Linked DNA regions of Homo sapiens: regions 1, 2 and 3 are each linked to region 4. The links come from fine-mapping of genetic effects on gene expression. A gene starts in region 4. Each other region holds a variant in brackets. All regions are shown on one strand. Distances are between the middles of the regions. Region 1 holds the start of LINC01215 (long intergenic non-protein coding RNA 1215). Region 2 overlaps CD47 (CD47 molecule). Region 3 has its middle 73 kb from the start of LINC00636. Region 4 holds the start of CD47 (CD47 molecule).

Region 1 (4,625 bases), 35 kb before region 4:
AGAGGCAAAGTGCTAGGTTGGCTTTTGCATCAGAGAATATTGATTAAAATCCCAGGCACAAATCATAGAGTGGCTTCGAACTAGTGTCTTATTCTTAAGGTGAGGATGATCATGGTGATACCTGATGGGACTGTGTGAGGATTAAATGAGATAATCATGAAGTTGATTTCTAAACTATTATGCACTGTATTACTTTTAGTTGTCACTATTATTTTATAATTTCAAGCAATTTTACATATCAATTACCAGCTGATTAATTAACATTCCTTTATAAATATTTATTAAGCCTTCACCATGTAACTGGTACTGGTCTAGGAACTGAGGAAGGCAAAGTTCCTGCTCTAGTGAATCTCAGATTTTCTAAATTAATCAAGTAAATATGAGTTTCATTTAAAATAAACTAAGCAACAGGTCGCTAACATAGGTGGTCATATCTTTGCTTGGTTCGATTCTAATAGCAGCTTGGATTCGTCCCAGGATTTGTCTTTGTTGATCTTTCCTGCTGAACTACCTTTTCTTTCTTTCGGTTTCACCATCCTTGATGCTGTGAATCCTGCAGGGAGCTAACAGGCTGGTGTGATAGCTTCTTACTACACCTACAGCTCAGCGAGTCCCGCCACTTGCTTTATACACTTTGATTTTTCTCTTTGCTTCTCTCTCCTATCTGACCCCCCTTTTCCTGAACACTTGCTGCCCCCTATTTCTCTTTTCTTCACTTTTGCTTTACTTCTTTTGCTGCCCCATTCCGTGGGAGACCCTATCTCTGTTTCTTCAGGTGGCCCTGTGGGTGTGAAAGAACAAACTTCTGGGCAGGCATACACCAGTGGTACACCAGCGGTACACAGGAAGACACCCCTCCCAGGAAACAATACCTCTGCCTCTGACACTTCCGGGAGCCTTGTAGCCACAGGAATCAACACATGTCTCTGCAACACTTCAAATTAACTCAGGCCTCAACAAGGCAGAGAGGGGTGTAGCCATACAGGCATGATCAGGGCCAGCTTATCACCATTCACTGGGAGACTGGCTGGAATGTGGATGTGCCGAGTGAAAAGTCAAATGTCTGCCTAATAGCAGAGCCCTCCACTCTGAAACACAAATGGCCCACTACATTCCTCACTCATAATTTTTAAAAATTTTTTAAAAAAATCTTTTACCCTAATGTCCAGTAGGCTATTGAACACTAGCTATCAATTTTTTGCCCTATGCCCTACAGTTAAAAATAAATGGCCAGGCAGGGTGGCTCACACCTGTAATCCCAGCACTTTGGGAGGCTGAGGCGGGCAGATCACAAGGTCAGGAGATCGAGACCATCCTGGCCAACATGGTGAAACCCCGTCTCTACTAAAAATACAAAAATTAGCTGGGTATGGTGGCATGCCTGTAGTTCCAGCTACTTAGGAGGCTGAGGCAGGAGAATTGCTTGAACCCGGGAGACAGGTTGCAGTGAGCTGAGATCATGCCACTGCACTCCAGCCTGGGTGACAGAACGAGACTCCATCACAAAATAAACAAATAAATAAATGTGTGTGCATAAATATGTACACACATATACATATGTATATTTTATATACACAAGTATTTGTATATCTAAAACCAGTTTCACAAAACAGTACCCTCATTACATGCATAGCTCAAATTTTTTAATTTCTTTATAATCTAGTTATCTTAATAACTTTTTAAAATGCTGGTTTTGACCTAGAGATTTTTAACCTTGTGTGTGTGTGTATATGTGTTTGTGTGTGTGTGTGTATCTGTTTGTGTGTATGTGTGTGTGTGTATGCATGTGTGCACGTGCCATTTCTACCCCATGTGATGAAGCCTATGGATCCTTTCTTGTAGTGTTTTTAAATGCATAAAGCAAAACTCTTAGGCTTACAAAGGAAATCAATGATATTGAAATACAATTCTATCCTTGGGCCTCTTGTGGGGAAAGGGCAGTGTCCACAGACCCAGGTTAAGAATCTCTGCATGGGTAAATTGATTTCCCAGCTGACTGCTGAGCCACAACCTGCAGTTTGGAAAATAAGGCTGTACAAAGCCTCAGAACATTTTGTTGTAGTTAAGTATTTCAGATGCTTATTATCCTGTCACGGTTTTAACCCTCTTTTCCCTCCCTTTCCCCATGCTCCCTCTATCCAGTCACCCACACCCCACCACATGCACATGCATGTGTACTCACTTACATGCATGCACATATATGTTGCCACATATCCACATACACATAGGCACACACATGCACAGGCACACACATGCAGATCTTAGGTCACATATCTGGAATGAGATGAGGCACTAGACCACTGGGTCCAGCCCCTCCTGTGACCCCAGTCCCACTCCCTGACTGCCTCTGTGTCACAGCTCCTCTGGCTCCTGCCTCAGAACTACTCTAGTGGCTCATTATCTCTGCAGGGCAGCGCTCACCATCACGACTTTCTTGTTTTCTTTCACAGCATTGTGAGCCAATAGGTGCATTCTGCCTCAGAATAGTGGTGGAGACTGGTGGTGGCACAGCCCAGAGCTCTTGACGTTTATTTTCTCAGGCTTCAGTGAACCTTCTGTGGCAGGTGTTTCCTTTTGATAGGCGGCAGTTCCTCCCTGGGTCACTCCAGCCTGCAGCTGAAGCCCTCACTTAGCTCACTGTGGCTGTACTGAACACACCACCTCCCAACATGGAGCA[G/A]CCTAGCCAGGGGGTGCGGGAAGGAAAGATGGTTGCTGCCACAAATGAATGACTCAGCTACCTTCTCCAATGGTTTGATATTGACGTTTCCTCCTGTCATAGCAAAAATGCCCAGGTGAACTGTTTTCTCCATCGCATGTAGAAAGATGATGGTTGTCTGAACTGGTTCCAGGTAATGGACAGTGGTAAGCGCTCCCTTCTCTTATAGTATGTTATGGATTGAAGTGTGTCTCCCCACAAAAAGATATTACTGGAGTCCTAACCCTGAATATTTCAGAATGTGACCTTATTTGGAGATAGTGTGTTTACTGAGGTAATCAAATTTAAATGAGGTCATTACAGTCTCTAATCCAATAAGACTAGTGTCTTATAACAGAAACGAACGCTTACAGAGGGAAGACAATGTAAAGAGACACATGGAGAAGATGGCTGTATTTCCATTCTCATGCTGCTATAAGGACATACCCAAGACTGGGTAATTTATAAAGGCAAGAGGTTTAATTAACTCACAGTTCAGCATGGCTGGGGAGGCCTCAGGAAACTTAGAATCACGGCAGAAGGGGAAGCAAACACGTCCTTCTTCAAGTGGTGGCAGGAAGAGAACTGAGTGAGTAAAATGAGGAAAGTCCCCTTATCAGATCTCCTGAGAACTCACTCACTTTCACGAGAACAGCGTGAAGGTAACTGCCCCCATGATTCAATTACCTCCCCCGGGTCCCTTCCATGACACGTGGAGATTATGGGAACTACAATTCAAGATGGGGTTTGGGTGAGGACACAGCCAAACCATATCAACAGCCATCTGTAAGCCAAGGAGAGAGGCCTGGAACAGATACTTCCCTCGCAGCTCCCAGAAGGAGCCAATCCTGCCGACACCTTGATTTCAGACTTCTGGCCTCCAGATTGTGAGACAAGAACAGCAACTCGGCCTGTGTTCTCTGCCCTTGAGGTTGAAACAGGGAGCAGAAGGTTTTTTTTCCCCTCTGTGTTGCAGCATGGAGTTCTGAATGACAGATGAGGGGTTGATCACCCTCCACACCCATGCTAAGCCTTATGGCTTCACGGGGTTCAGGCTTCCTGTGTTCAGTCTTCTGTGTTGCCAGAAAAATTTGCATACTCCCATGGACAAAGAAAGCAGCAGAGGAGAAAGAAGAGCTTTCATTCACTTCCTCTTTGGGGTGAGAGCAAGTCTGAATGCTCTAGAATTGATTCTATTAGAAAAACTCTCTGACCCCAAATATGAATATTTTCACCACACCCAATACTCATAATTTTAAAAATAGATCTTTTGAGTTTCATCCTGACTAGTAACCTAAAGATCACTGACTTCTGATTTATTTTTTTATCATGCTCTACAGTTAGAAATGCAAACATATAGACTAGAGAGGGCCACAGAGGTGTTTGATCCCATCACTTCATGTAGGTAGGAAGATGTTGAACCCCTGAGAGGGGTCGGAACTTGTCCAAGATCACACAGCAGGCAGAGTACATCAGGACCTCAAACCCATATCTTCTGCCCTCTCCTCCTAAGGTCTCCATCACTAACACCCTGTCACGGTCCATCCTGCTAAGGAAGTCTCTACTATAAAATCCCATACCTTGAAAATTAATTGTTTTTCCACTCACACGTTACCACCCTTCCCTCCTGCAAACATTTGGAAGTTGAAAGGTCGCACAGCCTTCATGAAATTAACCAGAAGAATTGAAAGGAAGCTGATGACAAAAGTACTTCAAAATCTGTTTTTCATGAAAACAGCTTTTTCTTTTCCCCCTCAGATCAAACTGAATTTTTCTTTTTATTTTTGCGGTATTCTTCTAATTGTGCCTTTTTAAATGTGTTTGAAATAGTTCTTTGTTTCTGTAGATTAATCACCTTTCAATGCTCTCCTTTTTTAAAAAAAACAAAATTTTAAAACTTTTAAATAAAATTTTCATTTGTTAACTCTCA
Region 2 (5,267 bases), 26 kb after region 4:
CTGGCTGATTTTCAGGATTCTTCTTTCTCACTCTGATATCATTTTAAGTGCTGTCCACCTAGTCCTCCAGTTCCTGCAGGATTAAGGTCCAACTGTATGTAAAGAACTGGCTAACATTTTGAAATTCTTTGAGATAGGCCTATCTGTTCTTTCTTTGCCTTTGTAACTTTGTTTTATACAGGCAATACTGGCTTCGCACAAAACCGCAAGACCATAAACATGACCATGTAAGCTGAAATTCTGCAAAACAATCTTCATGATGAATGGGAAAAACTATTATTATATTGTTCCATGACCTTTAAAATTTTTTTTGTTGTTAAAACCTTAAAAACTCTGTTATTATCAATAACAACGGCATTGGGAAATGAAAAATAGTAAAGCTAGTATTTAGTATGTGGTAAATTAAATCATTAGAAACATCGAGAATGAAAGTGTGTTATCAAGAGTAGTTTGAACAACACTTGTGTGTTCTTCTTGCATAACTTTGGATACAGAGCAAGCATCTTCTCTATGGCTTGGTGAATTGTCATACCCCTTTCTAAGTTTGGATCGGTTTCTACCGTTTTATCCTTTGCACTCTCAATGTCATGAAAGAATTCCTTTAATGTTTTTTTGAATGTTTAAAGTTTATTTTATTGCCAGTCACTTCCTCTGGGACATCTTTATTCTTTTTGTTACATCCTCCTCACTTTCCTCATTTATATCAGTAAGTCCACCTTCGCTGAGTTCTTCTGGCTTCATCTCTAGAGTTTCTTGCATTGCAGTAATGTCGACATTCGCACAATCAGCTATTTCTTCTCTTACTCCATTTATGGTCTATTCAAATTTCACTCCTAGCATTTGTCAGTTTTTATTTCTTTACTCTTTCATCTTTCTTGCCTAGTTTCCTCTTTTGATTTATCCATTATAAAATGTCACATGGGTTTATCACTGGGAAACAAGGAGGTAACAAAACTCCATACTTTGCTGTCTGTGCATGACCTAAATATCAGATGTACAGTGACTAGTCACCAACAGTCTTCAAAAGAAGTGACATGGTTGATCACTGATCATGATGGGACATCTGCTATTTACATAGTTATTTTTGAACTGAAGAAATAGCAGTGAAGTTGTACTTTATGCAGTTACTCAGTTAATATATTGTGGTAATTGAAATTTGGACTGTTTATGAGGGATTTATTTGATTAAACCATGGTAACTGGAATTCATATCAGAATAGTGCAAAGTGAGGACTGCTGTACTTGATTCCAAATTTAAAACTGTATTCTAGGCATCTTTAATTTTTTTTTTTCAACTTTCCCCTCCCTGCTCAAAATTACTCCACAGAGATTTTGGTTACGGCTCAGATGTCTTTGAGTAGATGTTCCTGTAGAAATCATTGTTAGAAAATTCAAGGAAAAAAGTTCTCATTACACTACCTTGAGATCCTACCAAGTCCTTGAGTTTTGACTTGAGGACAGCTTAATAATGAAAGTAATTCAGCCATGAAAGCATATTTAAAATAAGTAATGGAACAGGAAATTTCTTCATAGATTAGAAAAATTATTCTGAAAAAGTGAAGACATAGCCTATCTTGGACTAGGAAATTTCCATCCAAGAAAGTAAAATATACAATAAATATTATCACAAAGAATCATTCTGTGACCTGGTTGATGGCCCCTGGTAATAAGACTTTGTTATTAAGTTTACTGTGAATTCTTTTTTTTTTTTTTTTTTTTTTTTTTTTTTTTTGAGACGGAGTCTCGCTCTGTTGCCCAGGCTGGAGTGCAGTGGCGTGATCTCGGCTCACTGCAACCTCCGCCTCCCAGGTTCAAGCGATTCTTCTGTCTCAGCCTCCCGAGTAGCTACAGGCTACTGGCGTGCACCACCATGCCTGGGTAATTTTTGTATTTTTAGTAGTGATGGGGTTTCACCATATTGGCCAGGCTGGTCTCGAACTCCTGACCTCGTGATCCGTCTGTCTCGGCCTCCCAAAGTGCTGAGATTACAGGCATTAGCCACCATGCATGGCCCCTTACAGTGAATTCTGTTCAATAATCTTGAACTCCCAGTGCTTTCCCTTGGTCCTGTCCATATAATGATCACATTCTGTTATTAAATAATGTGCTT[A/G]TGTGCTGATTTTATTGTAGGAGGAATTGAACAAATCTATAGCTCAGCATTTTACTCTTTTGTAGAAATCCCTTGACCCTTTCCAAATCCAGACATCACAACCTTCTCCATATACTCAAAAATTGTGAAATCCACAAGGCAGGGAAAGTTGATAATGAAAAAAAGGAAGTTTGGTCTGTTGGACATCCTCTTCTTTCATCTTTTATGTTCAAAGTACTTGATGCACAAAGCCTGGACTCTTTTATCTCTGTCCTATAGACTGATGTCTAGTCAGTATTCATTGTGACAAAATTGTTTCATTAGAGCAAGTTGGATAGTGTATGGAGATTATTATAAAATGATTTAACTTGTCTTCTGTCAAGTAATTTTATAATTGGTATTAATGTTCATTTTTTTCCAGTACCAGTTTCAGAAGCTTTCATTTGTGTATGCATGTGTGTGTTAAATAAGTGTATTAGATACTTGAAAAATAGTAATTTAAATTTAAACAATTTAAAAAATGAAATTGTAATTTTATGTGTAAAGGTGTCTGATGTGCTTTATTCTGCACTGAAAACAATATTCATTTACAGCTCAACAGACACCAAATATATTCTAAAATTACTTTCCTAGAGTTATCAGAAAACAGCACTGTAATAATGAAATCAAACCCATCTTTCTTTATGATTTATTCTTAGTCTGATACGCATCAGCCTGGTAAGCCTTCCTGTCTCTCTGCTTACTTACCAATCACTCCAAATGTCATGTCTTTGGGCAGGCATTAAATTCTTGGGTTTTGGGTTTTGTTGGATGGACTGCAGTCTGTGTGAGCCTATATGGGTGTGTCAAATCCAGTCTTTGGGGTGTCATGGAAACTTAGCATGATAGACTTGATTTTATCCCCAAGTTGACTTGGTAATTTCATTAGATTTCATCAGTCACAACCTGCATTTTATCTTGTATGTGCTGTCTATTGGTCACAAAATCAGAAAACCTTCTTGTCCATTCATAACATTAGCTGTTTTTTCAGGTGGCTAGAGGGACATGTCATTGCTTCATCTGCATGAATTTGAAAGATTAAATGCATAAAGGAATTTTCTTAGAGTAGAGTAGGCCTTCACCATCTCTTTAACTGGGAAAGAAGTTTTGGGAGTAACATACTCATCACTCACACCCCCCTCCCCTCAAACACACACACTCACCCATTAGAATGTAAGGGCCTTGAGGCAGGCCTTGTGTTTGCTTTTCGTGTTCACTGTCAGCATTTAGAATAGTGATAGTCATATAGATGGATAGTGCTCAATCAATTATTGTCAAATAAAGTAATCTACTTGTTCCTTGATTTAGACTAGCAAAAGGGGCTGGTACATTGTAGGTACACAGTAAATATTTGTAGAACAGATGAATGAACCAACCCAACAGATTTCTTAGAAGTAGCCTGCTTTTGGTTACTAATTATTTTATAGAACATATAAAAGAAAATTTTAGAATACCTAATTTGTTCACAAAAATGTTATATTGTCTCCCCTGATACTTGGTATTCCTGTGTCAGGCTGAGCACTAAGGTTATACATTTTTTGTTAAGCATGTAATTACTGTTATTTCTCATGTACTTTATTTTGTGTATTGATTTCAGTAGTTGTAGCTGAGGGTAATCCTTAAGAGCATGCAGATTTTAAAAATTACATAGATTGCCTTGCCAAGCCGTCTGAAAGTCATACTAGAAAATTTGATAAGAGCCTGCTGTTAACAACACATTGAGTTATTTTTATCTTAATGCTAAGTGGAGAATTACTTGAATTTATTTTTTTTGCTGCATTTAATGTTTTGATACATTCAATAAATAAGGATAAATCCACTTACTGAAGGACAAGAAAAGATCAATAAGAGATCCTTGAGGTTATTGGGTTCTATGGCATCTATTATATCAAATTCCTTGCCCTTTCACTATACTGAGAAATTTGACGACTGGGCTAGCAACAAGATACCTACCCCACATTAGCTGTGGTACCTGCTGAAATGTGACCATGTGAGCAAAGAAAATGAGCCAAAAGAAACTCTTTCTGAAGATTCACTGAAGAAAACCTGGAGATACTCTTTCATTAGTAGACCCCACAGAGACAGGTGGAGTGTCCGTTATCCAGAATGCCTGGGACCAGAAGTGTTTTGGATTTCAGATTTTTTCACACTTGGGATCCTCAACATGTGTATTTGTTGGAAATGGCTACTTAATTTAAGGAAAAGTTTAAGGTGGCCTGGAAAATAAGTAGTAGTTGAACTAATCAACAGGAACCAAAACTACTTTCAATATATAGTGTACTTATACTCAAAGAGAGACGGACCATTTTATGGTGGAACCCTGTCTATGGTAGTATTTTGTGATGTTTTATTTTTGTTGCTATTGTTTGCACTGTTTTCTCCTATAACAGCTCTTCTAAGCCTTAAGAGGATAAATTTTATATGAGATTCAAACTCTTATTTTTGTTAAGAAGGATGTAAGTCACCAGGCATGGTGGCTCACACCTGTAATCCCAGCACTTTGGGAGGCCGTGGCAGGTGGATCATGAGGTAAGGAGCTCGAGATCAGCCTGGCCAACAATGTGAAACCCCGTCTCTACTAAAAAAAAAAAAAAAAGAATTCAAAAATTAGCCAGGCCTGGTGGCGCATGCCTGTAGTCCCAGCTACTCGGGAGGCTGAGGCAGGAGAATCATTGAACCTGGGAGGCAGAGTTTGCAGTGAGCCGAGATTGTGCCACTGCACTCCAGCCTGGGTAACGGAGTGAGAGACTCTGTCTCCAAAAAAAAAAAAAAAGAAAAGAAAAAGAAAAATATAGAAGAAGAACATAAGTCAACCTTTTTCCATGAAATTATACTGTACTCTAAGGCAAATTCTTGTTGCTTGATCTTAGTAGCTTTTTTATGCATTGACTTAAACCTGGAAGAGTTTCTTATGAATGTTTGATTGACTGTGAGGTGCATTTGAAACAGCTTCTACTTTATAACCCTTTGCAGAACTTTCAAGCTCTATTTAGATAACAATATATATGGGATTAAAATGGAAAATGTGACATATGTCTAGAGAAAGTTCCTTTTTCTGTGTATGTGCCTTTTGTGACTTATACACTCAGTTTCATTCTAGCCAGCATTTGAGCCTAGAAAATAGGGAAGTTATGAAAACT
Region 3 (5,267 bases), 130 kb after region 4:
TCCACAAATGATCATTGCAACCATTCTTCCTTAGCATCCAGCCATATGCTAGCTATGTCAGGACCTCCACCAGTTGAGACTGAATCTTGCAAGTCTCAAGCAATTAGGCATTCAAATGAATGCTGTGCTAATATATAGATTTTAGCATTGTATTTTCTTGGGTTCTTTTTAAAAAGGGGAAACTCAAAAATTATTCTTTGTTCAATAATAAAGGCTTGACAATGCATCTGTTTCTAAGTGCATGCAGTATCTACTCAAATCTGTATTGGAAAATTACACTGTAAATGCTTTGTAGGCTTTTTTTTTTTCTTACTCATTTTCAGTCTCTCACAGTCTCTCACTTCTTAATCAATTCCTATTTTCTCAACACAGACTGCATTGCCACCAAGCTATCAAGTAATAACTTTTTTAGAACTCAGAATGAAAAGAAAAAGCCCAACCAAACAAACAAACAAGAATGAAGCTTCAGGAACCCTTTTCTCCTGTACCGGTACACGAAGTCATCCATCTCTGCCACAGTGGTGGTTGAATTCAGATAGGCACCTGATATGCTGATTGAAATTTTTTAGTTCAAGGTTTTTTAAGAATCTAAAATAAATTTCCTTTTCCTTGTCTTCAGGAAAGCCTACAAGTACCAAATCCAATTATGAGAAAAATGTAATTTCCCTTTTGGTCTATGACACAGCACAACAGTTATCTGTGGATGTTTAAAAAAATGCATGAAGTAGGATTCTCTTGGTTCACACCAGATAAAGTCCCCAGGAAAGTGATCCATAGTTGGCATCATTTGCTGACATTCATGTGTGATTCAACACCTCTAGACAATGATTTGGGGGAATCTGTTTTTCTATTATAAGCCAGACTTTGTCTTCTTGATAGAAACTGAAAGGATCAGCATTCCCAGCTTTTAAAGTAGATGCTTCCTGTGAGACCCAGCGCCCAGAAGCCACTCACAGACCCTTGCGGGTGTCTCTTCACATGCTGTTCAGTGCCATTGTAGAGATGAGGCATCCAGGTGACTGACGAATTTCTCACTTGTCCTCTGGCTGCTTTTGCATCTGTGGATACAGTCTCTGTATTTATAGGCGTGATTAGATTGAGAATTCTTGGGTCAACCACTCACAGATTGTATCAAAAACAATCAATCTAGTTTGACTGTCTTAACATTTTGGCTATTTTTGTTGTTAAGGCAAGCAGATCTGATGAAGTGTTCACTCCTTAGTTTGATGTTCAGCAATTGTCTGTCATGGTTCTGAAGTTGGAGGGAAAAAAAAGTAAAAATCAACTGTCAAAACAGTCAATCCAGTCGTGAATTTCTCCCTGACACCAGAGAGCATTGCTTCTCTTCTCCCTCCCCCTTTCTTCCCTCCTCCTCCTCCTTTCCTTGGGTCTGTCCCTCCCACAAACAGTTTCTCTTCTCCAGTGATGTTGATAAAAGGCAGAGAAGGAAGATATTTTAGGTTTGCAAAAGCTTACATTCTCCTCAAAGATTTCCCTTTCCTTTGTTTCGATGTTGATTATCTTTTGCTATTGAGTAGTACTGAAAGGATGGCTACACTGTATGTATGGAAAATGTGTATCTTAATGGAGAATTTAGGCAGAAGTGTCCTCTGCTTTCTCTTTCAAGATGAATTCCACTTTTCAGGGCGCACAGTTCCAAAGCCAGTGAGAGGGAGGCGGCTGGCTTGCAAAATCCTTTCCTGTCCCTGAGCCCGCTCCAACCTCCTTGGAACAGAAGAGCTCTGAGTCTGGCCCTGGTGTGGGATGTGGCTGGCTTTCCAAGTTGGGAAATGTGTTAGTAATTACTTTTTACTGCTGTCTCCATTTGTGTTTCCAGACTTTTCCCCCTCAGCCGGTGTTTTTCTCCACCCAGCTTCCTATGTCATTCTCACTGCTAATCTAACCTTGGCTCCTTTCCTCCAGAAACGTTTGACCTTGTGCAAGAACTTGGCATCCACTTCTGTCCTCCTTCTTCCCTAGAAGGGAAGCGCTGGACTGGGATCATTAGCATGAGCAGGCAGTGCTGCCAGCTGCCCGCCTGTGTCCTCTGGGCTCCGGCTGGTACAACAGTAGCCCCCATTTTCTGAGCAAAAGGGTGGTGGCCACTGGTTGTCAGGAGACCTTGTCCAACATTTTGTTTCAAGATGGTGTTACCAGGGATGTGGACTAAGTAATTAGCTCCTTTAATTGAAGGAACTTACAGGAAAAAATGTAGAAGCAATAAAACCTCTTTAGTTCACACATCCTTGCTTTGGATTTGAAAGAGCTCAGTCGATATTTTTTATGAAGACATGATACTCTGCATTAATTTGAATCTGGAAAGGGTTACAAGGAAACTGGGAGTTGTTTAACCTGCTTAAGAGAACAAACTTTGCAATCACTTAAGAAATGCTCACATTTCTTCCTTCTGTTGATAAGCTGATTACATACCACTTTTATCTTTCCATTAATTAAGTCCCCAAGGACAAATACCATG[C/T]ATAGTTTTATAACTGAAATACCATCATATAGATACTTGAAATTAATACTACTTCAGTTCTTTAAAAATACTCCACAATTCCATATTTTCACTAATTCAGTCCAAACTTTCTTGATTAAACTGAACAAGTGTGATTTTACCATATCTGTTTGTGAGTGTATGTTCCTGGAGTTTATAGAATATAGCTATTTTTGTAAAATGCCTTAGGTTATAGGGATTTGGTATAGAGCTGGAAATTGGTTGCGTAGGGATGGTGATAGAAGCTGAGGGTGGGAACAGTGACTAGTCATTTACAGTACGCATTCAATATAACCCAGACTATGAAGGGGTATACGAAGTACAAAATTGTGGATAATCTATTCTATTCCTTTATTTATTGGACGGGGAGAGGGAAGAAACTTACAGGAGGGAGCAACTGTATGGGTCCAAGTGATAAGGTCTTTATATATTAGGAGATTCATATCCAGAGATAGGATTTCTCCATCTCATTCCTCTCAGATAAATGAAAAATCGGACTGTTTTTCTGATAATGAGATTTTTCCCTACCCCTACGTTGGAGGACTAGCTTTTTAGTTCAACATAAGCTTTCAGTAATGCAGTATACTACATATGGCCAGAAAGAGTGGATGTGGGAGCAAAAGCATCAGCTCTAGAGCTAAAGCCCTGGCTTGCATACTGGCTTTCCCAGTTATAAGCTGTAAGATCTTCAGTGTATAAATTATAGTAAGTCAAAACTTTGTCGTAGAAAAATACGAAGATACACGTAAAATTTTATTATTAATGAGGGAAGCATTAGGATTTTAAAATTGATTCCAGAATCAAAAAGACTAAATGTATATTTACAGATAGATAAATAGGTAGATAGATAATGTCCTCTGACATTATACTTTTTATTGAACAGAAATCATTTGCATTTTTATCAAACAAAAATCTACCAGCTAACCACAGATTCATAGACTCTCGTCCTAATCAATAGTAAACAGTAAATCAAACAAAGGTGTAGTCTCCAATAGAATTAATAATCCCCTGGGCCCAGTTTGATATTGAAAGGATATATAGGCATCTTTTTGCCTATTTTCAGGTTTGAGGTAATGTTTTTCAACAGGAGGTAGGGCAAATTACTTCATCTCTCTGAACCTCTGAAAAAAGAATATAACAACATCTACCTTACAGGTTGCTGCAAGATTAGCAGAAAATCAAATATCTAAAGCACCTCCCATGTCAACCTAAATAGCAGAGAGAGGCTCTCTAAAAGAAAATTATGTTTATTTGGGAATCGAGTATTGCAATGGGAATACACGTGCCATAGTAAATTATATGCGTATTAAGGGAAGTAAAGGGAGACAAGGGTTTTTAAAGAAGAAATGAGGAGGACTATTACAGAATTGTTTTGAGGCAATTATCCTTGGCTACAAAAATCAATAACAAGGTGGCGCCTGTCTGAGGTTGACAGGCAGTTGCTGGGCAGATGTCCTTGCAGAAGTATTTTTTGTGTAAGGTTATGGTGGCTTTTGCACAAAGTTGTGGTTTTTGCAGAGTCTTTTGTGGTGGTTTTATTTTTGGGCATACGAGCATGAGAACCCTCTCTTCATAGCCTTCTCCAGCTATATATGTTAGGGTTTTTTGTTTGTGTGTTGGTTTTTTAACATGACTGACTCCATTCTGATTCTGACAACTTTCACACCTACAATACCTCAATAAAGGGTAATTCTCACCTCTTCCTGTATTCTCCTTACTCCAGGTTATCTGACATTTTGCCAATCAGTTCTCTTTCAATTGGTGCTTTCACATATAACCAAAATAATAACTGAAGACTATGATGATAACACTGAGATTCTTCGCAGTCACTGTGTCATTACAGATAAAACTGTGTTTTCAGCATAGTATCAATGTTAGGTGTAATTGATTATGGTCTGCATTAAAAAAAAAACTCATTATCCATGGACATTGACTTAGTTGAAACAAAATAGTTAACCAAAACCATATCTTCCAGATTATTAAGCATAAAGGAAAATTCTAGCAAGGGTTTTTACCTGGAACACCAACTTGAATTCAGAAGTGCCTTTGTCAAGCAGTAGATTTGAACAAATGTTCTCTACATCTCCTTCCTATTCTAGGATTTTATAAAAAATGTGTAGAAAGGATACCTAAAAAAAATAATATGCAGAAAGGAGAAAGCCCATGCATTTTAATCACCAGGAAAAAGAACTACAATAGTGTATTAAAAATAATGAAAGTGGTGATCATATTTTTATTTCTTCAAAAACATGTAATTATGAACAATTACAAATATATACAAAATTAAAAAAAAAAACACTCAGGTACCCACTACCCAGATTTAACACATCTTAACATTTTGCCATGTCTCCTTAAGGTTTTCTTTTTCTTTTTTTTTTTTCATAAATAAAGAAAATAAGATAAAGCTAAACCTCTCTTCCTGTCTATTTCCTCCTGTAAACACATCTAATAGCATTAATTTAAGCGTACCCTTAGAATGACCCTATCTGGCAGATGCACCTGAATGTGTGCTCTGAGTTAGAGAATCCAGGAGTGACCAGCCCAGAGATTCATTCCTTGTCTATGAGGAACATCTGAGCCCCCTGCCTGTCCCATGGAACACGGGCTGTTAGGGAATTGAGGCCCTGAGTTTTGGGTTAAATGAAGGTTGCCAGATAAAGGTCGTTAGGGGGAGGGTATTAAGTGAAGATGCCGTATCAGCTGCATGCTGTTTGCAAGTGGTTGTGGTTTTCCTGTCCAGCCCACCACCACTTGACAGTATGTAAGCCTCCAA
Region 4 (5,267 bases):
ATTAACTTAGGTGATATAGCTAATGTGTACTTCCTGTGTTCAAAACATTCTAATATGTATTATCCCCTCCCTCTCTACCCAAGAAACTCCTTACATACAGATAAGATGAGCTCAACATCCAAATTAAAATGCTTTGAAAAGTTAAAAGGCAAACCTTTAAAATGATTAAATACTGAAAAGAGCTTAAGGTTATCTCAGAGAGAGGATAATCAAACCTAGGCAGGCTGCTTTGGACTGTCTCTCCTGGGATATGCCTGCTTTTGCCCCACCACCAAAACATACCCCAGCTAGATTCCCAAGAGCAGCAGTGGTCACCCAGGTGGCCTCTCATTCCATTTTCTGCACAAAAAGACGTTAAGCATATAGCTCAGTAGCTCCCAGTGTAAAACAGAACATCACCCGATCTCCACCTCTGAAGGTTGGGGACAGTCCTTTCTAGTCACTCTTCAGCTTTAGGGGGGTTGGTTGGTATCAGGGACAGCTGACAGCCTTATTTAGCCAACCAGCTGCTCTGTGATACACAATGTCCCTAATGCTCAAAGTCTGGTGGATGATTCTTTTGTATCCACATAAGCAGCAGTTGGAGGAGAATCGATGAGTCCCTTTGGTTGCCTCGGGGTGTCAAGGCTGCCATTCAAATCATTACCACCATAATTATTAACCATTGTTTTAGTGAGATGTCTGCCAGGCAATTGTTTTTATTTTTCAATCATTAAAAAAGCAATCAAATTTCACTAGAGCAATGCCTGCCTCACGCCGCATCAACACATTTATTAAACCCCTTCTGTTTGCCGAGCTCAATGGAAAGTCTTGGAGGAGGGAATACTTAAAATGCTCTCGGATTTAAAAGAATTGATAATGCTGTGGGGAAGAGGTTCACACAAAAAAGCAATTACAGGAAGAAGCTCGATAGTATACAATACACTGGTACAGAGTGTCATAGACAGTGCCACTTTCATACGCTGGATTTTATTTCTGTGGCAATGGGATGCTTGGGAGGAGCCGCACTGTGTAGAGGATTTGGAGAAGTGGGGTATTGTGGTGGGAAATTGCTTTCTTTCCCAGGAGGTAGGAGGAAAACAATCAAGGAGGTGGACAGGATGTGCACTCCATTAGAGCAGCCACCAGAGCCTGACTTTTTGATAAGAGAGTACATCAGTTAGGATAACGGTTAAAAGTATCTTTAAAAGACTTTTGCTTCAGGATGAATGATGTGGCCTGTGTGATTCAGCGATAAATTCAAAAGCCTTGTCCCTATTGTGGCTTGCGGCCACATTTCGAACCCATTTTTCAAGCATGTTAAACCCAAGCGCAGCGCAGAGGGCTGCACATGGGGCAGTCACAAACCAAGCTCAATAACCTTGCTGGTGGGGATGTGTTGGATACGCTGCTAATGCCTGTTTGCGACAATGCTCGCTAGTCCCGGTGGTGGCGGTGTTCACAGGTAACAATGTTTACCACCGTGAATGGAACTTGTTTGATTAACCCTGATCAGAGGATGAAAACACTAAAGAACCAAGTGAGAAAGAGGGAAGAGAACCGCATAGGGAAGAGCAGAGCGAGTAGACGAGCCGAACGCAGAGCCCGCGAGGGGCGAGTGGAAGCTCCCTGCGGGCAGGTACCCGACCACCGCCCTGCCCTGGGCGTGGCGGCCTCGGGCTCAGGGACCGCTTCGGCGCTAGACGGCCGCGTCCGGAGGAAACGGGCGCTGGTGAAAGCCTAGGTGTCCTGGTCCACGCGCGCAGCCGGACGTCGGGTCCAGGGAGAGACGCGGGCTGGGGCGGGACGGGACCCGGCCCCTGAAGCGCGAGGGTGGGAGTGAAAGCAAAGAGGAGAAAAGTAGAGAGAGAGGACAGTGGGGCCCAGCGCCGCGCGAAAGGCAGGAACCGACCCGCGGACAGGAACGGGTGCAATGAGGTCCCCGGCGAGCGTGGGAACACAGGGTTCAGCCTCCTGCGGCGGGCGAGCACGCGGACCCCAGGGGCGGGCGGGTGCGACAGGACGTGACCTGGAAGCGCGGCGCGTGCCACCGCCCTGGAGCAGGCATCCGGCCTCCGTGGAGCGGGCAGGCGGGCCCCGGGTCTGGAGCCTGCGACTGGGGAGGGCGCCGCGTCAACAGCAGCGGTTGCGGGGCGGGGCCGAGTGCGCGTGCGCGGCTCTCGCGGGCGGGGAGCAGGCGGGGGAGCGGGCGGGAAGCAGTGGGAGCGCGCGTGCGCGCGGCCGTGCAGCCTGGGCAGTGGGTCCTGCCTGTGACGCGCGGCGGCGGTCGGTCCTGCCTGTAACGGCGGCGGCGGCTGCTGCTCCGGACACCTGCGGCGGCGGCGGCGACCCCGCGGCGGGCGCGGAGATGTGGCCCCTGGTAGCGGCGCTGTTGCTGGGCTCGGCGTGCTGCGGTGAGTGGCTCCTCGCTCCCAGCCCTGCGGCTGCTGTCGCTTCGCCCCCGCGGGCGTGTGGGCTGCGCCCCAGCCAGCCCGGCGGCGCCCTGAAGAGGGTGGCCGGGGCGCAGAACACTCGGGCCCTGAGCGCCCGAAGTGCAGACGTGGGAGGGCCCCACGGGGAATCGGGCGCCCCCCTTCTTCCTCCCTTCCTTTCCCTGGTCGTCTTCTTCCCCCTGGGTGAGAGCGGGGCTCATCTCCTCCACCCGGTTCTCCATCTCCAAATGCACACACACAGGAAGACTCCAAACCGCGCACCTCGCGCAAAAATTAACTAGCAAGAAAGGGCGCGATCAGAGGCAAGGGGCTGCAGCTGCTAGGGATCCCCTTCTTTCGCACCCCTCTCCCTTCTCAGTGCTTAGACGCATTTGGGGTTGAGGGAGGGAGAGTGGGAGGGCCCGGGCCTCTTGCGATGGAAGTGCGCATTTTGGCGAAGTCGGTGAGAAGGGGTTTCTGCCGTTTGCCTCCCACATGAACATAGGAGCGAAGAGGACGTAAAGGACACAATTAAGTTTCATTTTCAACTCAGCATTCAATCAGAAGAATCTTCCGGCCGTGTAATTTTTGCTGTCGTTTTTAATCCTAAAAATAAGCTTGCTGGAAACTCTTCCTTTCTCGTGACCCTCACGCCCCATCAGCCACTTGCATACATTCTAAATTGTACGTTGAAGTTTTTCCCACTTTATTTGGGGGAACCGTTTTAAAAGTAATCTGGTTTTCGCCTGAAATAGGAAGACAGTAACCTCCAGTCAAAACATGTGCAGCAGAATGGGATTTGGTGTTTTTCGACGCCAAAGAACCTCCACCCCCCCACCCCCACCCCGAGCTTTTGGAATCCATTTCGCTTTTGTAAAACGTGTGCTTCGTCTGTAAAAACTGAGCAAGGAATAGAAACATTCGTAGCTCTACAGTGAGTGCCTGTCACACTTCACATCCATAGAGCCTTTTGTGAACTTTTATAAGATTCAGAATTCAGCTTGAGCACCAGTGACAGCAATTGTTACATTTATTCTAGAATGCTAAATTAATTCGATTTTAAACTGATTATTAGCCTCGGTGTGCCGTTCCTAAAGGCTTGTGACTTTAGGTATTTCCAAGATGCCCTTAAGTCTCTGCTTACCACTTTCCTCCCTCCCCGAGCATCCTGGATGTTGGGACTGTGAATCCAGGTCTCCGTTATCTAAATGGTTGATGTTAGTGTTTCCTGTCATCACGTTTAGTATGCTTGTTGCCTTTACTATCATTATAGCTAAAATAATACTGCTTTCAGAGATGTGTTGTATAATCGCATAATAATTTCAGAACGCCTTCATATTGAACCAGATATGAAGTGATACAGTATCATTTATTCAAACTGCCTAAAAAGTAAAAAGTATAAACCATATACTATTTTTAAAACAGGTAGGTTAGATTTAAATCACGTAGTTTAGAACTGTTGGAATGGTACTTTGAGTGATAGGATTTATGTTAGGCCTTCTTTAGTAATAGTTAATATCATGTAATTAGCACTCGTTTACACACAATTTTAATGTGTTCGAATCCCTAGAGTCATCGAATTCAGAATTTATAGTATTTTATTTTACTTAGTTAATATTAACCTAAAAAAAAAGCAAAATACAGGCATTATGCAGTTGAGTTGTGTTAAGTGTGGACTGTAAAACAGGATAGTATTTGTTATAAAATATGTTTTTGTATGTGTTTAATATATAGCTTCAAAAGGACATGTATGAAGAAAGATGTCTCAGCACATAGGTAGTTATAAACCAAGGGTTTGAGAGACTGACTTTAGAATCTAGAATGAGTAAGAAAGTGATGGATCTGTACATTCATTTGTATTGAAGTTTGATTTTGCTTTCAGTTTCGTTAATTAAGCCCCGGGAATCAGGGACCTTTCCTGGCACCCTCTACAGTGTTAGTGGCCTTTGTGGTAAAAGAAGTTATCTCAGATACTCATTTCATGCAATTACAGGCAAACTGGAAGGCACCTTAATGGTATGCAAGATGTGAAATGAATTACTATGTTGCATTCCACTCTGCCCCCACTCATGTACAATTATACTTTGTTTAAAAGTGCATAGTTTCAGTGGTATTTATTAGCTAGCAAATAAAACTTTAAATAAATAATGATGGTGTTGTGAACTGTCTTTTCAGTGGTTGAATGATTCCTCTTTGTTCAAAATGAGTTGTTTTTTTTTTTAAATCAGGGTACATATGATTAAATAAAATTTTTTTCCATCGTCTAAGTCTAGTAGTAATTTGGCTTGTTTAAATAAAAATGTTTTCTCTTAAAGAATATATTATTTTTAATTACAAGTTGCCATTTTAAGGAAGTAAATGCCTATTTAAAAGTACGTATTTATGGGGCCGCCCCAGCAGTCTAGAGGCAGTGTTTTTTAAAGCATTACACTAAATGCCTACCATTAGGACACTTGCTCATGCTGTCATCTGTGTTTTGGCAGATGTTTTATCTTTGTCACTGAGTTGTTCATGGAGATTTGAAAGGCCAAGTTCTAAAGATGAGAGATAGATGACTTTCCCCCCAAATTGATACATATTCTAAATCCAAAATAATCACGCATATTCGCAAAACTAGATTTGCATTTCATAGTATGAATTCAGCTATAGCTAGTATATAGGCATTGCTTTTAATATAGTAATGTTCTTTTTGTGGCATAATTTTCAATCACTTTCCCTGTCTTAGGTTTCTGCCTACCTTTTTATACAAGATAAACATTTCTATTTTCATATCTTATCTCTCAGTCTGATTTTAATAATATCGTCTTGGGTTATCATAAAGTTACTTTCACTTTGTATACTAGTGTAGATATTTCT

The links. PIP is the estimated chance that this variant, and not a neighbour inherited with it, causes the effect. A credible set is the group of variants that fine-mapping cannot tell apart.
Region 1: its variant is the best candidate, but not a certain one, in a credible set for the expression of CD47 in whole blood (TOPMed, PIP 0.55).
Region 2: its variant is the best candidate, but not a certain one, in a credible set for the expression of CD47 in tibial artery (GTEx, PIP 0.67).
Region 3: its variant is the best candidate, but not a certain one, in a credible set for the expression of CD47 in lung (TOPMed, PIP 0.66).

What each region holds. Positions count from the first base shown.
Region 1 is chr3:108,123,705-108,128,329 of GRCh38, reverse strand. It overlaps LINC01215 (long intergenic non-protein coding RNA 1215), which reads right to left and starts at 3,266. Exons shown (of 2, transcript NR_110030.1): 1 at 3,188-3,266. RefSeq lists enhancers at 2,254-2,353, 2,854-2,933, 3,154-3,203, 3,484-3,623, 3,694-3,743 and 2 more. The variant G/A (reference allele first, on the strand shown) is at 2,678.
Region 2 is chr3:108,062,276-108,067,542 of GRCh38, reverse strand. The region is part of intron 3 of CD47 (CD47 molecule); the gene reads left to right. Among named protein-coding and RNA genes, the nearest start is that of CD47, 26 kb to the left of the region's middle. The variant A/G (reference allele first, on the strand shown) is at 2,110.
Region 3 is chr3:107,953,823-107,959,089 of GRCh38, reverse strand. No RefSeq gene overlaps it. Among named protein-coding and RNA genes, the nearest start is that of LINC00636, 73 kb to the right of the region's middle. RefSeq lists a silencer at 5,061-5,261. The variant C/T (reference allele first, on the strand shown) is at 2,477.
Region 4 is chr3:108,087,989-108,093,255 of GRCh38, reverse strand. CD47 (CD47 molecule) reads left to right here and starts at 2,225. Exons shown (of 11, transcript NM_001777.4): 1 at 2,225-2,393. The coding sequence starts at 2,348. RefSeq lists silencers at 1,612-1,671, 1,682-1,731, 1,752-2,501.